Regions from separate parts of the Homo sapiens genome. Here regions 2, 3 and 4 are each linked to region 1. Evidence: fine-mapped expression QTL. A gene starts in region 1. Each other region holds a variant in brackets. All regions are shown on one strand. Distances are from middle to middle. Region 1 holds the start of ELL (elongation factor for RNA polymerase II). Region 2 overlaps ELL (elongation factor for RNA polymerase II). Region 3 overlaps ELL (elongation factor for RNA polymerase II). Region 4 overlaps ELL (elongation factor for RNA polymerase II).

Evidence for each region.
Region 2: its variant is fine-mapped to the expression of ELL in whole blood (INTERVAL, PIP 0.97).
Region 3: its variant is fine-mapped to the expression of ELL in whole blood (TOPMed, PIP above 0.99).
Region 4: its variant is fine-mapped to the expression of ELL in whole blood (INTERVAL, PIP 0.99).

Annotation. Positions count from the first base shown.
Region 1 is chr19:18,520,274-18,527,836 of GRCh38, reverse strand. It overlaps ELL (elongation factor for RNA polymerase II), which reads left to right and starts at 5,767. Exons shown (of 12, transcript NM_006532.4): 1 at 5,767-5,916. The coding sequence starts at 5,782. RefSeq lists enhancers at 5,274-5,603, 5,747-6,262, 6,263-6,778 and silencers at 5,994-6,303, 7,034-7,083.
Region 2 is chr19:18,462,329-18,466,328 of GRCh38, reverse strand. It overlaps ELL (elongation factor for RNA polymerase II), which reads left to right. Exons shown (of 12, transcript NM_006532.4): 3 at 411-532; 4 at 754-917. Among named protein-coding and RNA genes, the nearest start is that of ISYNA1, 26 kb to the right of the region's middle. The variant T/C (reference allele first, on the strand shown) is at 1,946.
Region 3 is chr19:18,445,078-18,449,077 of GRCh38, reverse strand. ELL (elongation factor for RNA polymerase II) reads left to right here. Exons shown (of 12, transcript NM_006532.4): 9 at 2,264-2,330; 10 at 2,598-2,769; 11 at 3,810-3,854. Among named protein-coding and RNA genes, the nearest start is that of ISYNA1, 8.9 kb to the right of the region's middle. RefSeq lists an enhancer at 2,229-2,757. The variant G/A (reference allele first, on the strand shown) is at 2,019.
Region 4 is chr19:18,476,899-18,480,898 of GRCh38, reverse strand. All of the region lies in intron 1 of ELL (elongation factor for RNA polymerase II), which reads left to right. Among named protein-coding and RNA genes, the nearest start is that of ISYNA1, 41 kb to the right of the region's middle. RefSeq lists enhancers at 1,960-2,029, 1,443-2,345, 3,601-4,000. The variant G/A (reference allele first, on the strand shown) is at 1,766.

The DNA.
Region 1 (7,563 bases):
TAAGATACAGAATTTCTTCAATCCAGGAGCTCCTAAGATATTTTAGTCTTGTTTTTTTCTTAGAGACACGGTCTTGCTGTGTCACCCAGGCTGGAGTACAGTGGCACCATTGCAGCTCTCTGCAGCATTGACCCACCCCACTGCACTCAAGTGATTCTCCCACTGCAGCCTCCCAAGTAGCAGGGGCTACAGGCACGTGCCACTGCTCTCAGCCAATATTTTAGTCTTGAATTGCAGCCTAGACCTGGCTAAATGTGAGACTGATAGTTAATATTTCACTCACTTGTTTGATACACTTTTTTTTTTTTTGAGACGGAGCCTCACTCTGTCGCCCAGGCTGCAGTGCAGTGGGGCGATCTCGGCTCACTGCAACCTCTGCCTCCTGGGTTCAAGTAATTCTCCTACCTCAGCCTCCGGAGTAGCTGGGACTGCAGGCACGTGCCACCACACCCGGCTAATTTTTGTATTTTTATTAGAGACAGGGTTTCACCATGCTGACCAGGCTGGTCTTGAACTCCTGACTTCAAGTCATTCCCCCACCTCTGCCTCCCTAAGTGCTGGGATTATAGGTATGAGCCACTACTCCTGGCTGCTTGTTTGATAAACTTTTAAAAAAGCTTTATTAAAGGAAGGAAATGTCCTTCCTGGCCAAGCAAACTGCCGGTGCCAATGTCTGGAGTTGAAATAGCCCCGCTGGCCAGGCGCGGTGGCTCAAGCCTGTAATCCCAGCACTTTGGGAGGCCAAGGCGGGCAGATCACGAGGTCAGGAGATTGAGACCATTCTGGCCAACGTGGTGTCTCTACTAAAAATACAAAAAAATTAGCCGGGCGTGGTGGCACACGCCTGTAGTCCTAGCTACATGGGAAGCTGAGGCAGGAGAATGGCGTGAACCCAGGAGGTGGAGCTTGCAGTGAGCTGAGATCGCGCCACTGCACTCCAACCTGGGTGACAGAGCAAGACTCCATCTCAAAAAAAGAAAAAAGAAATAGGCCCGGAGCTGCCTAGAACATGCAAGTTATGACATGGTGCGGGGACGGGGAGGAGAGAGGCCCCGAATGGCCAGACTAGGAGTGTGAAATTGAATGTGGTTATTCACTCGGCCACTTCATCCTCAAAGGTCTGAGCTGGTTGTGGGTGGTGAGCTGGAGCATCCAGCACGTGTGACGCTGCAGTTGTGTTGAAGGCATGGGATGCCTTTAATGGGTGGTGAAGGGTATCCCTTGTGGATGGCATAGCTGTGCAAGGTATGCCAGCTGGACCATGTGTGGTACCTTTGGAGAACGACGGGGATGGCTTTGTCTTTCATACCAAAGCATTTACTAACACCTCCCATATACCTGGCCTTGAGCAGTGACTCAGGAGGGCCTTACCCGACTTGCCATGGGCTGTGAATTGGAAGTGAGCACTGCGGAAGGAATTTTGTATGTGTACGCGAGCTCACAATTCTGGAACACTTGAACAGGGCGAGCTACACATGTCCTTGTCTCATGTCATTGTCACAGAAGAATCAGGTAGATGCTGTTACACTCCCTGTTTTCTGGATGAGCAAACTGAGGAACAGAGATGGCAAGATGTGTCCAAGACCACACACGGGGTAAGGGGCAGGGTGGGGTCACTGCTTCCATCAGAGAGCTCACCAGGTGGACTATGTGTCCGGGGGGCACCCCAGGGTGATCAACTCACTTGCAATATTGTGGGTGACCTAGTTCCTTTTTTTTTTTTTTTGAGATGGAGTCTCGCTGTGTCACCCAGGCTGGAGTGCAGTGGCGCGATCTCGGCTCACTGCAAACTCCGCCTCCCAGGTTCACGCCATTCTCCTGCCTCAGCCTCCGGAGTAGCTGGGCCTACAGGCGCCTGCCACAATGCCTGGCTAATTTTTTTGTATTTTTAGTAGAGACGGGGTTTCACTGTGTTAGCCAGGATGGTTTCGATCTCCTGACCTCAAGTGATCCACCCGCCTCGGCCTCCCAAAGTGCTGAGATTACAGGCGTGAGCCACCATGCCTGGCCATGGGTAACCTAGTTCTTAAAAATTTCTGCAGACAAAGCCGGACACGGTGGCTCACGCCTGTAATCCCACCACTTTGGGAGGCCGAGGCGGGTGGATCACTTGAGGTCAGGAGTTCGAGACCTACATGGTGAAATCCCGTCTCTACTAAAAATACAAAATTAGCTGGGTGTGGTGGCGTGTGCCTGTAATCCCAGCTACTCAGGAGGCTGAGGCAGGAGAATCACTTGAACCAGGAGGCAGAGGTTGCAGTGAGCCGAGATCGTGCCACTGCACTCCAGCCTGGGCAACAAGAGCAAAACTCCGTCTCAAAACAAAGAAACAAAAATGTCTGCAGACGGCCAGGTGCAGTGGCTTATGGCCTATAATCCTAGCACTTCCTAGCACTTTGGGAGGCTAGGCGACAGGATCTTTTGAACCCAGGAGTTAGAGACCAGCCTGGGCAACATGGAAAAATCTCATCTCTTCAAAAAATACAAAAGATTGGCCCAGTATGGTGGAGCATGCCTGTAATTTCAGCTACTTGGGAGGCTGAGGTGGGAGGATGGGTTGAGCCCAGGAGTTGGAGGCTGCAGTGAGCCGAGATCATGCCACTGCACTCCAGCCTGGGTGACAGAGTGAGAACTTGTCTCCAAAAAAAAAAAAAAAAAAAAAGGCCAGGCATGGTGGCTCACGCCTGTAATCCCAGCACTTTGGGAGGCTGAGGCAGGCGGATCATCGGATCATGAGGTCAGGAGATCGAGACCATCCTGGCTAACACGGTGAAACCCCGTCTACTAAATATACAAAAAATTAGCCAGGCGTGGTGGCACGTGCCTGTAACCCGAGCTACTCGGGCGGCTGAGGCAGGAGAATCGCTTGGACCCAGGAGGCGGAGGCTGCAGTGAACCCGAGATTGTGCCACTGCACTCCAGCCTGGGCGACAGAGTGAGACTCCGTCTCAAAAAAAAAAAAAAAAAAGAAACTTCTGCAGAGCATGCCAACGTCTGATAAGTTCTGCCTTATTTTTCCTGGGGTCTCATTGAGATCCACTGGGGAATCAAATGTAAAGTAGACGTGGAGAAATACTTTTTTTTTTTGGGACCGAGTCTTGCTCTGTCACCCAGGCTGGAGTGCAGTGGCACGATCTCGGCTCACTGCAAGCTCTGCTTCCTGGGTCCAAGCTATTCTCCTGCCTCAGCCTTCTGAGTAGCTGGGATTACAGGCGTGTGCCACCATGCCTGGCTAATTTTAGTGTTTTTAGCAGAGACGGGGTTTCACCATGTTGGTCGTGGTGGTCTCGAACTCCTGACCTCATGATCCAGCCCCCTCGGCCTTCAAAAGTGCTGGGATTACAGGCGTGAGCCACTGGGGGCCTGGCTTTTTTTTTTTTTTTTTTTTTTTTTTTTTGGAGACAGGGTCTTACTCTGTCACTCAGGCTGGAGTGCTGGAATATAGTGGTGCGAACATAGTTCACTACAGCCTCAACCTCCCATGGGCTTGAGAGAGCCTCCCATGTCAGCCTCCGGAGTAGCTGGGACCACAGGGGTGCTCCACCATGCCCGGCTAATTTTTTTAATTTTTTAAATTTTTTTGTAGAGAGGGGGCTTAGCCCTGTTACCCAGGCTGGTCTCAAGCCCTTGGGTGCAAGCGATCCTCCCGTCATGGCATCCCAAAATGCTGGGATTTCAGGTGTGAGACACCTTGCTAGGTCCTGAGTACTGCTCTTATTGCTGTTTCCTGTTTCCGAAGTGAATCCACAGAGGCTCAGAAGCAGGAGGTGCCTTTCACAAGATCACAGAGCGAGCTGGTTGGCCCTCCAAGCCAGCTCCTCCCTTGGCCAGGCGCAGTGGCTCACGCCTGTAGTCCCAGCACTTTGGTAGCCCTAGGCAGGCGGATCACCTGAGGTTGGGAGTTAGAGACCTGATCAATATGGTGAAACCCCGTCTCTACTGAAAATACAAAAATTAGCTGGGCGTGGTGGTGGGCATCTGTAATCCCAGCTACTCGGGAGGCTGAGGCAGGAGAATCGCTTGAACCTGGGAGGCGGAGGTTGCAACGAGCTGAGATGGCACCGTTGCACTCCAGGTTGGGCAACAAGAGTGAAACTCTGTCTCAAAGAAAAAGAAAAAAAAATCTCGGAAATTAGATAGTGGTGACAGCTACACAGCATTGGGAATATATTTTATATGTAAAATGTGACTCAATGAAGTTGCTTTTTAGAAAATGGAAGGCTGGCCGGGCACAGTGGCTCATGCTTGTAATCCCAGCACTTTGGGAGGCCGAGGTGGGTGCATCACTTGAGGTCAGGAGTTCCAGACCAGCCTGACTAACATGGTGAAATCCCGTCTCTACTAAAAATACAAAAAATTAGCTGGGCGTTGTGATGGGCGCCTGCAGTCCCAGCTACTACTCGGGAGGCTGAGGCAGGAGAATTGCTTGAATCCAGGAGGCGGTGGTTGCAGTGAGCCGAGATCACACCACTGCACTCCAGCCTGGGCAAGGAAATCGAAACTCTGTCTAAAAACAAACAAACAAACAAAAACTGGGGGAGGTGGCTCACGCCTGTAATCCTAGCACTTTGGGAGGGCGAGGCGCGCGGATCACCTGAGGTCAGGAGTTCAAGACCAGCCTGGTCAACATGGTGAAACCCCATCTCTACTAAAATACAAAAATTAGCTGGGCATGATGGCGGGCGCCTGTAATCCCAGCTACTCGAGAGGCTGAGACAGGAGAATCGCTTGAATTCAGGAGACGATGGTTGCATTGAGCCGAGATAGCGCCACTGTTCTCCAGTCTGGGCTGATGAGCAAGACTCCGTCTCAAAAAAAAAAAAAAAGAAAAGAAAAGAAAATGGAAGTCTGGGCTTGGTGGCTCACTCCTGTAATCCTAGCATTTCAGCAGACCCAGACAAGGAGGATCAGTTTGAGTTCAGGAGGTCGAGGGTGCAGTGAGCCATGATGGCGCCATTGCACTCCAGCCTGGGCAACACAGCAAGACCCCTCAAAAAAAAATTAAAATAGGAAAATGAAGCTGGACTGCACCATCGCTCAGGGACTGTGGGGATGTAGGATTTTATCCTATTAAAAGTACTCATCTCATAAGAAAAAGTTTACCAGCTCCTCTTCCACCTACCGGTCCAGCACCTTCCCTGGGTGGAAGTCCCATCCACCCCGCCTAAGGGATGCCTTATGTGTCCAACCCAGCGTCCAACGCGCGCGCTCCGTTTACATAGCCACGCCCACCCTCCCGGCCCGCGGCGGGGCCTACCCACCCACGTGTTTCGAGCCGGCTCCGCCCCTCCACGCCCTCTCTGCGGCTTTCCACAGAAGCCAAAGACGGAAGACTGTAGAGATCTCATAAATAATGCATCACGTCAGCGGCTGTAGGGGCGGGGCTTTGACGCGCCTGGCTGGCTGAGTCAGGGTTATGTATAATACTATGGAGGCGGGGCCTGGAGGGGTGCGCGTGTTGAGGCGGAGTTCGTTCACGGAAGTGGCCACCCCTAGGGCCTGAAGAGGCGGGGCCATAAGTGCCTTATGAATATGCAACAACTTGGGGCGTTGACTGTGGGCCTTGTGGGGCCCTCATGGGGCGTGGCCAGGCGCGTCTCCTGAATAATGTAGTGCGCTGCCTGCCGGTGTGGCGGCGACTGTTGGTTTGGTCGGACTCGGGGGGCGTGGCCAGCCGCGTCTCATGAATAATGCAGCGCGTCAGCGGGCGGCGGGGCGGGGCGTGGCCGGCGTGGCGGCGCTGGAGCCGGGAAGGGGGCGCGGGGGAGAGATGGTCGCAAGATGGCGGCGCTGAAGGAGGATAGGAGCTACGGGCTGTCGTGCGGGCGGGTTAGCGACGGCAGCAAGGTGTCGGTGTTCCACGTGAAGCTCACCGACAGTGCCCTGAGGGCCTTCGAGAGCTACCGCGCCAGACAGGTGAGTGGCATGGCGCCCGGCGCGCCAGTGGGGAACGTCCGGACGCGGGCCGGCCTCGCGCTCCCCTCACTGAGGCGTCCGGGCTCGGAGACGCTAGGTCTGTGGTGCTGCTCGCGGGTCCCTGGGCCGGCGGGGCGCGGAGTGGGCGCCAGTCCGGCCTGGAGCGCTGAGAACCGCGTTCCTTCTCAGCACTAGGAGGCAATACAGGCGGGTGGCCCGGGGCTGCTGAGGGGCCCAGACTCGCGCGCCGGGCCCGGGGGGCGTCGGTGTCGGCACCTGGCGGCGTCCGGGGCCTTTCTGGCCTGCTGGGCACCTGGGCAGGGTCCAGTTTGCGCACCTGGCGGCGGGGCGAGGAGGCGGTGGGCCGCACGGTCCCGGCACCGTGATAGGGGGAAGCTGGGGGCTTTTCCATCTGGGGCCGGGGCAGCGCCGTTGGTGGGGGTGACTGTGTCTGTCCTCCTGGGAAGCAGCGATCGTCTGGGTGCCCGGCAGGGGGTGGTCAGCGAGGCACTTGTGGGGGTCTGTTCTGTCTGGGTGGAAGGCTTTGCAGCTGGGGGCTGGCTTTGACGCGTTCCGATGAAGCCACTCAGGTTGGGCCACTTTGGTTCTTGGGACGGGGAGTTTGGGCAGAAACTGACAGCTTGTCCCAGCTTTCTGCTCCCCTTACCCCCAGGTGACCCTCTCTCTCCGGAGAGAGGTTCCTTGGAGAGTGGAAGTGTTGGGGGCGGCTGTGATGTTATCCTCAGGGCACATGTAGGGGATCCCTGCCACCCAGGAGGAAGCTCTGGCTACCACATCTGGCCGCTGACTCTGGAACTTCTCAGAGGCCGATTTGGGCCCATCTGGGGGAAGTTTGAGGCGTTTCGGTTCTGCCACCTGGCTGGTGGTGGGGAGGGGAGGCTGCTGTGTATGTTCTCTTGGGCCTGACTTTGGGGCGCATCTGGGGCCGTGGTCAGAAACCTGCCTTTTTCATTTCTGTTTGTGTCATGGCCCCCCCTCCCCCCGTCTGTGCTGGGTCAGAAGTTGCAGATGACCAGTGGTCAGGTCCCGAGGGGAAGTGGTTTAGGAACCTTGTAACTCCTTTTCTGGAAATTGGGGGCTTCATTGCCCTAAAGGGAGTGGGGGTGGGTCTAGTCTCGGGCTCAGAGAGCCCTGCTCCCTGCGTGTGTGTGTGTTTGTGTATACTGTTGATGGTGGGGGTGGGGGGGTGCCGCGGGCGGGGGAGGAGGGAGACTAACTAGGAAGGAATGTGGCTTTCTTCCTGCCCCGAACTTGTTCAGCTCCATTAGCTAAGCCGAGAATTTCTTCCCCCTGTTTCGTTTCCACCACTCTCCCGGTGCCCACCCCTTCCGTGCTTCTTCCCATGTCTTTGGGCAATTTCCTCCCTGTCCCGGTGTCGCAGTTTTCCCCTTCATGGAATGAGGATTTCATTTTTTTTTGAAAGAGCAAGTTCGCACCTTGTCAAAAAGACTCCCCAAGATGAGGCTAAGGCGCCCCTGCAGGTGAGGAGGAGACAGTGGCAGCGACAGCAGCTGCTGGCCCATGACCAGCCAGAGCCTCTCTTCCTGGTAGAATTCTGGCCCTGGGTCTTTTTCCCTGAGCGATTCTGACTTGTCCTGCAGGAAGGCAGGCTTTCCTAGAAACAGC
Region 2 (4,000 bases), 60 kb after region 1:
ATTTTACCTCATAGGGTGTCGCAGGCCAGGTCTGTCCATTTGGTGGTGGGGAAAGTGAGTCATGGTCCAGACAAACCACTTTCCAGGGGTCACACGATTGGGGTGGGGGCCCTGCATCTGGGCAGGTGCTGAGCACTGTCCTCAGACAGCAGTGCTGTTGCTGCTGAAAACGGCCCCTGGCCCCATGCCCACCCGCATAGGTGCCTGAGTCCCCTCTCTACGCAGTGTGTGTTGCTGAGGATGGGCTGCCTGTCCCGTCACTGGCTGAAGAGCAGGGGTGTGTTTTAGGGAAAAGGGCCAGCACATTCCTGTTGTGAGGGTTGCACTGTGGGGACTCATGCAGGAAGATGCAGGCTGGGGACCTGTCCTGCCGAGGACCTCCCAGTGACACCCCCTCCCCCTCCACGCAGCACATCTCCATCCCCCAGCCTGACTGCCCCGCAGAGGCGCGGACGTTCTCCTTCTACCTCTCCAACATCGGCCGCGACAACCCCCAGGGCAGCTTCGACTGCATCCAGCAGTATGTCTCCAGGTGAGGCGCCGCCCCACCCCAGAGCACCCCGCCGGCTCTTGAGGTCACCCTGCCACCTCTGGCCCAGGGTTGAGATGTGCCCCATTGAAACCATATTGCCTGAGATGGTGTTGACAGAGTCCATTTTCCAGGCCAGGTGGTGGGCTGGGGGCTTGGGCCCTCAACGGATCCTCCCTGCATTGTCCCAGCTGCTGACCCCAGCTCCTGGCCTTGTCTTGCAGTCATGGGGAAGTTCACCTGGACTGCCTGGGCAGCATACAGGACAAGATCACGGTGTGTGCCACCGACGACTCCTACCAGAAGGCGCGGCAGAGCATGGCCCAGGCGGAGGAGGAGACGCGGAGCCGAAGTGCCATTGTCATCAAGGCTGGAGGCCGCTACCTGGGTGAGCAGTGGGTTTGGCAGGGCTGTAGGGCAGCCGGGCAGCTGCCAGTGTCGGGAGACATTTGGGGCCTGTCCAGGCTGGGCACTGGCTGTGCCCTGCACAGAAATGATGGGTCAACCGAGGAGTCGGTCCCTGAGCAGGACGTGCCTGGACCAGAGTCTGGGTTGGGAAGAGAGGTATGGCCACATGGGCCTGGGGGCTATGTGAGGGATAGGGGGTTGGGTTATGGCAGCTGCTGGCTTGTGAAGCCTGAGGTGGACAAAGGGGCCTGAGAACTCCAGGAGCTGTGAGTTGGTGGTCCCTGCTTTCAGGCTGCAGCCTTGGGGACCTTCACCTGTCAGGGAGATCAACAGGCTCCCTGAAGATGGGCATGCAGCCTAGGGCAAGGCCCATGTCTGTCTCTGGAGGCTGCCCCCACCCTCACCTGACCAGCCAGCTCCTGCCCAACGCCACCACAGCCGGCAACAGGCAGGAAATGAGCCTCACAGGCCCTGTTGCCAGCGACCCAGCACTGCAGGAAAGCTCTGGCCACTCAGCATCAACTTGGAAACGGTTTCAGCAGTTGAGAAGCCAACAGGCCTTGACAGTGGGAAGCACAGTGCTGTTTGTTTACAGAGCTGCAGCACCCCGCCTCTTAGTCCAGGCAGAGCTCCAGGAGTCATGGGAACTCATTACGGCAGGAGTAGGGTGCCGGGCTTCAGGGAGGAGGGAGATGGCTCAGAGCAGACGACAGCCTTGATGGCTTTTTGAGTTTTATCTTTAAGAAAAGGCGGGGGCATTTCAATTCCTCTCTCTCCTCCTTCCGAAGAAAGCACGTGATTTCCCTTTGCTGAGCAGAGGGGTTCCCTCTGAGTGAAACCCCAGATGTGGGTGCAGGGGTTGGTCTTCCTGGTCAACACTGAGTCCGGGTGGACATGTTGTATGGCCAGGGAGCCCGGGTTGTCCATGATGTTGAGGCCCTGGGCTGTAAGCCCCAAGCACAGGGCTGCTGTGGGGAGAACAGTTGAAGAGACAGCGTGTTTTGTTTT[T/C]TGTTTTTTCTTTTTTTAAAGACAGGACCTTTCTCTGTCACTCAGGCTGGAGTGCGGTGGCACAATCATAGCTCACTGCAGCCTCAAACTCCTAGGCTCAAGTGATCCTACCTCAGCCTCCAGAGTAGCTGGGACCACAGGTGTGTGCCACCACACATGGCTAACTTTTAGATTTTTTGTAGAGACAGAGCCTCGCTATGTTGCACAGGCTGGTGTCTGACTCCTGGGCTCAAATGATCCTTTCGCCTGGGCCTCCCACAATGCTGGGATTACAGGCATGAGTCAGCGCACCTGGCCCCATATACATGTTAATAAATCTGTGGGTCCTTCAGCCAAAAACTTGATCAGAAATGTATCTTAGCACACCACTTTGGGTACAGTGAGGGTTTTTTTTTTTTGAGATGGAGTCGCGGTCTGTCGCCCAGGCTGGAGTGCAGTGGCGCGATCTCGGCTCACTGCAACCTCCGCCTCCCGGGTTCACGCCATTCTCCTGCCTCAGCCTCCCGAGTAGCTGGGACTACAGGTGCCTGCCACCACGCCCGGCTAATTTTCTTTTTTTTTGTATTTTTAATAGAGACGGGGTTTCACCGTGTTAGCCAGGACGGTCTCGATCTCCTGACCTCGTAATCCGCCCACCTCAGCATCCCAAAGTGCTGGGATTACAGGTGTGAGCCACCGCCCCTGGCCCAGTGAGGGTTTTTGAAACAGTTTATGTTCTGGTAGGGGACGCTGTCTGTTAAGATGTGAATGTGGCCAGATGCAGTGGCTCACACCTGTAATCTCAGCACTTTGAGAGTCCAAGGCAGGGAGATCACAAGGTCAGGAGTTCGAGACCAGCCTGGCCAATATGGTGAAACCCCATCTCTACTAAAAATACAAAAATTAGCCAGTTGTGGTGGCGTGCGCCTGGAGTCCCAGCTACTCGGGAGGCTGAGGCAGGAGAATCTCTTGAACCTGGAAGGCGGAGGTTGCAGTGAGCTGAGATTGTGCCATTGCACTCCAGCCTGCGCAACAGAGTGAGACTCTGTCTCAAAAAAAAAAAAAAAAAAAAAAAAAAAGATGTGAATGTGCGTGTTCCTCTGTCTCACAGTGCCCCCCTCAGGTTGCTCCTCCTCCCTGTCAATCAGCCTGGCCCTATATGGGTGAGTCCAGCCCTGCTGTCAGGACCCCACTGAACAGACCCCAGAGGTGTGAGCACTGGCCCTGGGTATTCTGAAAGCAAGGCTTTCTGGGTTAATTTGACAGATCAGATTTTGAGAGATAAGATCAGAGTGATGTTGTTACGAAGAGCTTTTGGGGGAAGGATTTGAGGCACTGTTGAGCTTGCTCGGCCGACCCTGTTCCCAAGGATGCCGGGGCATCATTGTTCAGGACAGAGCAGGGGAGCAGCGTGCTGGACCCTGCCCACGTCTCTGCGTTGGGGATAGAGGGGAACCTGCTCTCCCCAGGGCTCTGGGCACAGCCACGCCTGCCAGAGGAGAGCTTGACCAGGCCTAAGGCTGGGGTGCCACTTGCACCTCAGGGTCTTCAGAGCAGCTGCTGAAAGTGGCTCCGACATCTTTACTGACTTTAGAAAAACAAAAATGGCAGCCACATGGGGCCAGCATAGGACTCTGAAGTGCAGGCTTGGGAGTGACTGCCTCTTGCAGTTCAGGGACCCCCAGTTTAACATCAGAAGGGTTTACAAACAGCCCCTGCCTCAGGTTGGGCAGGATGGCTCTGGTTTATAATACCAGCACTTTGGAAAGCTGAGGTGGGAGGGTCCTTTGGGCCCATGAGTTTGAGACCAGTCTGGGCAGCATAGTGAGACCCCATCTCTACAAATAATATAAATTAGCCAGGCATGGTGGTGCACACCTGTGGTCCCAGCTACTCCAGAGGCTGAGGTGGGAGGATCGCTTGAGCCCAGAAGTTTGGGGCTGCAATGAGCCATGATTGTATTACACTCCAGCCTGGGTGACAGAGCAGGATCCTGTCTCAAAAAACAAAACAATCCTTCCCCCCCCGCCCCCCGCCCAAACACACACACACACACACACACACACACAGCCCACT
Region 3 (4,000 bases), 77 kb after region 1:
GAAAATGCAAAGCAGGGGTAGATGTCCCAAGCACCAAGAAAAGGACAGTGGAGGCACCAGAAGCTGAGCCTGGTGCTGGTGGTCCATGTTACCAGAGTCCTGAAGGTGGTACTTGTGCAGGGCATGTCTTAGCTGTCCTGTGCCCGTGCCCAGGACAAGCAAGTAGAGAGACGTGGGCTGTGAAGGGGAGAGATGGGGAGAGGAGCTGCTGTGGGGGTGTTCTCCGGGGCCCCGAAGCAGGGACCAGCTTGGCCGGCCCCACACAGCCAGAGCTTGAGTAGGAGTCGGGGGCCGCTGAGGTTTGCCAAGGGCTGGACTTTGAAGGTCCCACTGGTACCAGGTTGAGCTGACCCTGAGCCTTGATTTCCCCGTTTGTCATCCTAGCTGGTGAAGATCTTGGGGCATGTCAAATGAGGTAATGTTGACCAGCCTGACACATGGCAGTTATCTGTTGTAGAATACCCACGGAGTCCACTGCGTGGCGGGAGCATGGGCTTGGCCTTCGCAGCTGCGCCTTGCCTCTCACTTCCTTCTGGCCCGGACCAGGGTCAGACCCATTCAATACATGCCCATTGAGTTGCGTCCCTGGGAAGGCCACAGCCTCTTAAAGACAACCCAGGTGGGGGTGGTGGTGATATGGAAGACAGTGTCTGGCCCAAAGTGGGGAGTGTTAGAAACTTTGTGGGGAGTGAGCTTCGTCCACTTTTGGGAATTTGGCAGCAGAGAAGCTGCTGTGGTCAGCCCAGGTGTGTTACACTGAGAGAGAGGGCTCAGCAAACTGGAGATCGCAGACTCCTGCTCTCTCAGGGGATAGTGCAGAGGGCCCCTGAAAATGTGCACTAGGGCCAGGCACAGTGGTTCCGCCTATAATCCCAGCATGTTGAGAGGCCAAGTCAAGAGGATCACTTAAGTCCAGGAGTTCAAGACCAGCCTAGGCGATATAGGCAAGCCTCCTCATCTCTACTAAAAAGTAAAAAAAAAAAAAAAAAATTCGCCAGGTGTGGTGGTTCATGCCTTTAATCCCAACGCTTTGAAAGGCCAGTTCAGGAGGATTGCTTGAGGTCAGGAGTTTCAGACCAGCCTGGGCAACACAGTGAGACCCCATCTCTACAAAAAAATTTTGTAATTAGCTGGGCATGGTGGCATATGCCTGTAGTCTCACCTACTTGGGAGGCTGAGGCAAGAGGATCACTTGAGCCCAGGAGTTCAAGGTTGTAGTGAGCCATGATCGCACCATTGCAACTCCAGCCTGGGTGGCAGAGCAAGACCCTGTCTCTAAAAAAAAAAAAAAAGTGTATTGAGGATACATCTGAAATTGATAAAATCATTTCTGTATCGGAAAGAAAGCCACTGCAAGAAGGTCTAGAAAACGCACTAAATTGTAGTTGTGGTCTTAGGCGACGCGCACTTCAGTCTTCCTGCCCCTCCCCTCCCTGATTTCCAGACCCTCAGGGGTGTTGTCTTATGTGGCCGGGGCACCCCACCACATGGCTCAGGAGCAGGACAGCTGCCTGGGGTGCCATCTAGCCATCAGCTGTGCTGCTTTGGGCAGGCCCCTGAAGGGGCGAAGGGCTGAGCGTCATCATGGACACTTTGCTCATGGATGGCCGATTGGGGTGGCCCATGGGCTCCTCTGGCTGGCCCTGTCCTGGAGCTGCCTTGTGGAGCGTGCAATTCAGTGTCTAGTGGAAAGGACGGGATGATCTGGGTGGGGCACAGACCAAGGGCGTGGAACTTTGTCAGCAGCAAGAGATGCAGGCCCTGCTGGCCATCTTGTCTTTGTCCTGTCTGGCCAGAGACTGGGATGCCCCAGAGACTCAGGTCAAGCCAGGGGTCATTTGTTTTCAGCTTAGTGACCTTTGACATGCAGTCAGTGGAGGCAGCAAGGGCCTGGCCTGGGGGAAGCTCTGACCGGTTGTGCAGGCTTTGGCCCTGCAGTTCCCTGACCTGTCCGCTGTTTGCCAAGAATGTGACTGTGGTGATGCCTGGGTGCTCTGTGTCCTGCAGGGCTTTGCCCT[G/A]GACACGCAGGTGCACGCTGAGCTCTGCTCACCACCTGGAGGGCACGCCCAGGTCCAGCAGCCCACAGTTGCCAGGTGCGAGGGGCTCAGCCCTTGCACCTGCCACACAGTCATCCCCTCTGCTATCCCTCTATGTCCCTCCAGCAGCAAAGTGTACAGTTTTCATGCATGTCCCCATCCTGGCGTGCTTCCTGCCGACCGGTGCCATGGGCGCAGACTCAGGAGGTATGTGTTTGCTCTCGTAGGTTTAAACGGAACCTGCAGCGTTTCCAGTGTTCCCACGTCCACGTCGGAGACGCCTGACTACTTGCTGTGAGTGTTTGTCTGGGCCCTGCAGGCCAGGCCTCCCTTTTCTGGGTTCAGACCCCCTCCCCCAGCACTGCAGGTTATCAGAGGTAGAAGCCACTGCAAGTCTGAGTATGTGAATTCCAAACATAGCAGCCTCTTCTGGGCCAGGCCCCCTCATAATCCAGGGAATCACCCGAGAGGCCAGGCCGCCGGTGGAGCCAGGATGGCCACTTCCTGGGTGGGGCTGGGTCCTTCCAGCCTCCACTCAGTGGCCCCTCTCTCCTGTTTCAGGAAGTACGCAGCCATCTCCTCTTCGGAGCAGCGCCAGAGCTACAAGAACGACTTCAATGCCGAGTACAGCGAGTACCGCGACCTGCACGCCCGCATTGAGCGCATCACGCGGCGGTTCACCCAGCTCGACGCCCAGCTCCGGCAGCTCTCCCAGGGCTCCGAGGAGTATGAGGTAGAGCCCCCCCGCTGCCTACTGTGCCCTGGCTCTGGCGGGAGCCAGGGCCCACTTGGGCGCGCACCATCGCCACCACGAGCTTGGTGGCCCCAGAGTCTGGCCCTTCCCCAGGCAGCGCTTCTCCCCCTGGTGCACTCCATGCAGCAACCCCATGGTTCTGGCCCGGCCCTGGGGTCCTGTTGTGGGAGTCCTTGAAGGCAGCCCAGCTTGTCAGCCTCCTTTGCAGTGGGGACAGCTGTGACCCACCTCCTTGGATGGGGGCGAGCCGGGGTACATGGATCCCCACATGTTTGAGCGCCTGGGGTCCTCTCACAGCCTAGGACACAGGGCTCTTGGTACCTGTGCCAAACCCTCAGGAGACTCCGCAGCTGAGCTCTGTCCAGCACCCTGGGGCCCATCCATGCTGCCACAACTATAGCAGGGGGAGGTGACAGGTCCCTGTGGTCCTGGGAATCAGGACTCCTGTGGTCCCCTGGCTTGAGCTCACAGCTCATTCAGCTGCCCTGTGTATACAGAGAGTCTCCACCCTTAGCCTAGCCTTGGACGTAGCCGCCCCACCTGCCACCTTTCGGAACTGGTGACCTGACTACAGGGCTGGGCCCTGATTAATCAGATGCCGGGGTCTCTCCTGGCCAAGGCCCCTTTGCCTTCCAAAGACGACGACTCATGATGGGGTTCTAGGGGCTGCGAGCCACGGGTTCTTGGGGCATCTCTCCTTCCCCTTCCCTCCCTCTTTGCTGCACCCCCCCACCCCCTCCCCACCCCCCCACGACATGGATACTTCCTTGTCCTGCCACGCCCCCACAACAGCAGTGCCCCACCTGCTATTGCCTCCAGGGGACCCGGCAGCCTTTCCCTCATGCCCCACCCACTCCGGAGCTACAGCCGCTGTGGGCCCCTGGGGTGTTACTTGGCCTTGTCCTTGAGGCTGCCCCACCCTCCCATGCCCCCTTCTCAGAGCACCTGGGACCACTCAATTTGGGTTTCCTGTAGGCGGGGACACATTCTGTTTTCTCAAAATTTTGTTTTTCTTCTAGACTACTCGAGGGCAGATTTTGCAGGAATATCGAAAAATCAAAAAGGTGAGTGTCTCTTGTGTTGGGGTGGGCTCCAAGTGAGCCATGGGAGCTGGAGGGAGGAGGGTGGGCCCGGGGCAGCCTCCCTGCCCGCTACTTCCAAGGTGTGGGGGAAGAGCCTTTGAGTCTGAGGCCAAAGTTGCCCCACCACC
Region 4 (4,000 bases), 45 kb after region 1:
ACTTTGGGAGGCTGAGTCTGTCGAGTTGCTTGAACCTAGGAGTTCAAGTCCAGCCTGGGCAACATGGCAAAACCCTATCTCTACAGAAAATAGAAAAATTAGCCAGGTGTGTTGGTGTGTGCCTGTGGTCCCAGCTACTCGGGAGCTGAGGCAGGAGGATCACCTGAGCCTAGAAGGTCGAAGCTGCAGTGAGCCGTGTTCACACCACCGCACTCCAGCCTGGGTGACAGAGTGAGAGCTTATCTCCAAAAAGAAAGAAAGAAAAAAAATACTTGCTATGCCGGCCACTGAATTACACTTGGCTTGTAGCCAGTTGGAGTCCCTTTCCTGCTCTTACAGGCCCACCTGGCCTGCTGAACACACCATCTGTCCTCCCAGGCTGGCAGAGGAGCTGCCGTGGGTCCTGCCCTCTGCTCTGCCCTGACCGTGGCCACCTGGTTCCCTAGGCTGGAACCAGTGAGGTCCACAATGTGTCTGTCCAAGTTCCCTAGCTCGTCCCTGAGCCAACCAAGCTCACTGGGCAGATCTTCCTTTGTTTTGTAGTTCACGGAGACAGCCCCACTCAGTCACTGTCTAAACTCTCCGTGGCCTCAATGTCCTGCTCCAGTCCTGCCAGGAAGTCTCAAGGAGGATTCCTGAATAGCGTTTCCCAATCATTTGTGCTTTACTGGAAAGGGGGGGCCTGTTGTGGGGAGGCCACCGTCCAGGGCTCTTCCCGGGACTTCACCTTCCCTCTGCTGGACCACACGCCGTGGCTTGGCAGGGTGACCCAGCTCTGTAAGATCAGGACGTGTGTGCTGACACTGGTGCTTGGGAGAGTCAGCAAGATGGACTTCTGAAGAAGGAACAGATGCATTCCTTTCTGTCATTTCCTGCATCAGGGGTGGGGTGGCAGGCCTTGCCCAGTAGACAGCAGGGAGAACGTGCTGCCTGGGGAGAGTGGGCACTTCTGCTGAGTGGGTGCTTCTGGAGGGTGGTGGGAAGGATCATGTGTCTTTGGGGCAGCCTTGGCACCTGCTGCCTTGGGCCTCATTGTCCCCAGGCTGGTAGCAGGTATCCTGGGACCTGGCCAGATTGGGCCCCGTCCATCTGTCTGTGTGTCTCATCTCTTCACTGTGCCCTCTCCCTAGTTTCTGTCTTTGCTGGAGAGTTTTTAAAACAATCCTAGATTTTTTTTTTTTTTTTTTTTTGAGATGGAGTCTCACTCTGTCGTGCAGGCTGGAGTGCAGTGGCTTGATCTCAGCTCACTGCAACCTCCGCCTACCGGGTTCAAGCAGTTCTCCTGCCTCAGGCTCCCGAGTAGCTAGGATTATAGGCGTATGCCACCATGCCTGGCTAATTTTTGTATTTTTAGTAGAGATGGAGTTTCACCATGTTGGTCAGGCTGGTCTTGAACTCCTGACCTCAAGCAGTCCACCTGCCTCAGCCTCCCAAAATGCTGGGATTACAGGTGTGAGGTACCATGCCTGGCCAACAATCAGATACGTTCTTCTTCACCCGTAACTTTTCCATTTATATTTTATATTTGTTGAAGGGAGCAGGTCTTTTTTCCCATAGATTTTTCTGCTTTCTGCTCTGATGGTCGCTTCCCGTGGCAGGGTCAGCCCAGGGCTTCTCAGCCCCTGCACTGCTTGACATTTGGGGCAGGAGGTTCTGTGTTGCCTGCAGTGTGCTGAGCAGCATCCCTGGCCTCCCCCGAGCCAGATGGTGGGGACTGTCCCCGCCCTCAGTGGTGAGGACCAGAAATGGCTCCAGACATTGCCTC[G/A]TGCCCTGGGGAAGATTCACCCACCACACTTCCTGTAAACTGGTCACTCGGCCTGGAGGTGGATTTCGTAAGCCACTTCCTGTTGCTTCATCCCCGGAAGTGCTCTTTGCCGGAGGGGAGAGGATCAGGGGATTCTGGCCCTGGAGAGGTTCCTCCTCACCCTTTCCTCTGTCTCAGCATTGAGGACTCTCACTGCCTCCCAGGCTCTGCACCCTCGACCCTTTTCCCAAAGGCATTGCTGTCTTTACAGGAGTGTCCTCATTGAGGGGGAGCTGCCTACAGGAGTCTCCCAGTCTGTGTTCAGTAGCCCCAGTGGGCGCCCAGGCCAAGTGACCGCAGGGCGCAGGCATCACTGCCCTGCTGTGTTGAGGTCTGTTCTCCGAGTCAGGGTCTGAAGTCCAGTTGGGTCTGGGGAGCACCAGCCTCGGCACAGCTCAGTGCCTGCCTGTCCGGCCTTGAAGACCCAGCTGACCTGCTGACTGTGTCAGGCCAGCTGTGGCGGCCCTACCAGGCTCCCCAGCTCCCACCTGGGGCCCTGGCCTGAAGTACAGCAGCGGGGGTGACTTTGTATCTCAGGAGCTCCCAGTTCCATACCTCATGCTGGGTAATGAAAGTTGGATTTTTGCCACTCGAGGGCCTGAGAGGACTTGTGGGGGTGATGACCCCTCAGAGGGTCTACAGAGACTGGGCAGGCGGTGGCCTGAGGCATGGCTCTCCCCTGCTGGGTGTTCTTGGGTGTGAGATGGGCAGTACCCTGCAGGTGTCATGTGCTACTGAGTTACCCCGTTATTTAATTAATGCAGCCTGAGGCCAACCCCAAAGCTTCTAAGGCAGCAGGGAAATCACCTGTGCTACAGTCTGTTCCTGACCCTCTGTCCTGCTTCATAGATGAGGTAACGAGGCGCTTGGCCCCCCTGACAAGGGTTCGGCCATGACACCACGCATGTTGGCTCTGGAGGGAGCAGCCAGAAGAGGGTGTGGTGGGCCACATGCTGTCAGGCGTCCCCACCAGGCCAGGCTGGTGAGCACAGAGGGTGACAGCTGGTCCCACCGTGAAGGGACCTAGCTGGCTCTGCCTGTCTGCAGCCGACACTCACCTCCTGGGCCCTTGATTGGCTTGTCAGGGCACTGCACCCCAGCTGCTTTCTGTGTTTTTTCTCATCCCCCCCACCCAGTCCTTGTGTTCTCATCACCATCTATTTAGCACCCCACATTCAAAACCCCAGCCTCACTACCGTAATTTATGCCTTGAATGATCTTTTGCAGAAACATCATAAGAAAAAAGCCTTTTCTATTCATGCATGCTCACTGTGCCCGCGTCATCCTCTGCAAATCCATAGGTCCATTTAGGGTCACTCTCCCTCCTTCTGAAGAACTTCTAGAACCTTCCTCACAGTGCAGGCCAGATGCTGACAGAAGATTCTCTCAGCATTTGTTTGAGCGAATCTTTATTTCCCTTTCTCTTTTCACTGGGCATGGAATTGTGGTCTGGCGGTGTTTCTCCCTCAGCACTTTGAAGATGCCCTCCCAGTGTCGGGGCTGGCTCCTGATGTGCAGTGTCGGCACCTCGGCACTTGGGGCGACTGTTGTGGCTGTGCTGATTTGCTCATGATGCGCCACGACCTGGTAGTTTTCCTGCTGGGGGTTGACAAGGCTTCTTGGGTCTGTGGATTTATAGCATTTGTTACATTTGGGAATCTCTGGCCACTCTTTTCTCAGATCCCCCGCCTGCCCTCAGGACTCCAGTTACTTGCACGTGGGATCCCCTGCTGTCGTCCGCAGGTCACCGAGGTGGTGTTCGTTTCCTGTAGGCTTCTTACTGTGGGATTCATCTAGGTGGCTCCTGTGGCTTTGTCTTCAAGTTCGCTGCCCTTTTCTTCTGTGGTGCCTGCTGTGACTTCCACCTAGTGGCCGTTTCATTCCGATCCTCCGTGTCTCAGCTCCAGAAGCCCCTCGTGGCTCTCTCACGATACCCGTACGTCTTCCTCTTCAGCTGTTTTCCTTTAGGCTTGGAGCATTCCAAGTTCACAGTAGCTGTCCCAAAGCCCCTGTCTGTTCAGTCGGCATCTCTGTGCTTCCCACGTCTTTGTGCCGACTCATTTTCCCCCTGGCTTAGGAGTCTCGTTTTCCTGCTGCTTCACGTGTCTGTAGGGTTCTGCTTATAGATACCACATGGCGTTCTTATGAGGTGGGTCCCTGCCCGATGGTCCGCACAGGGCTGGCCATGATTTAGAC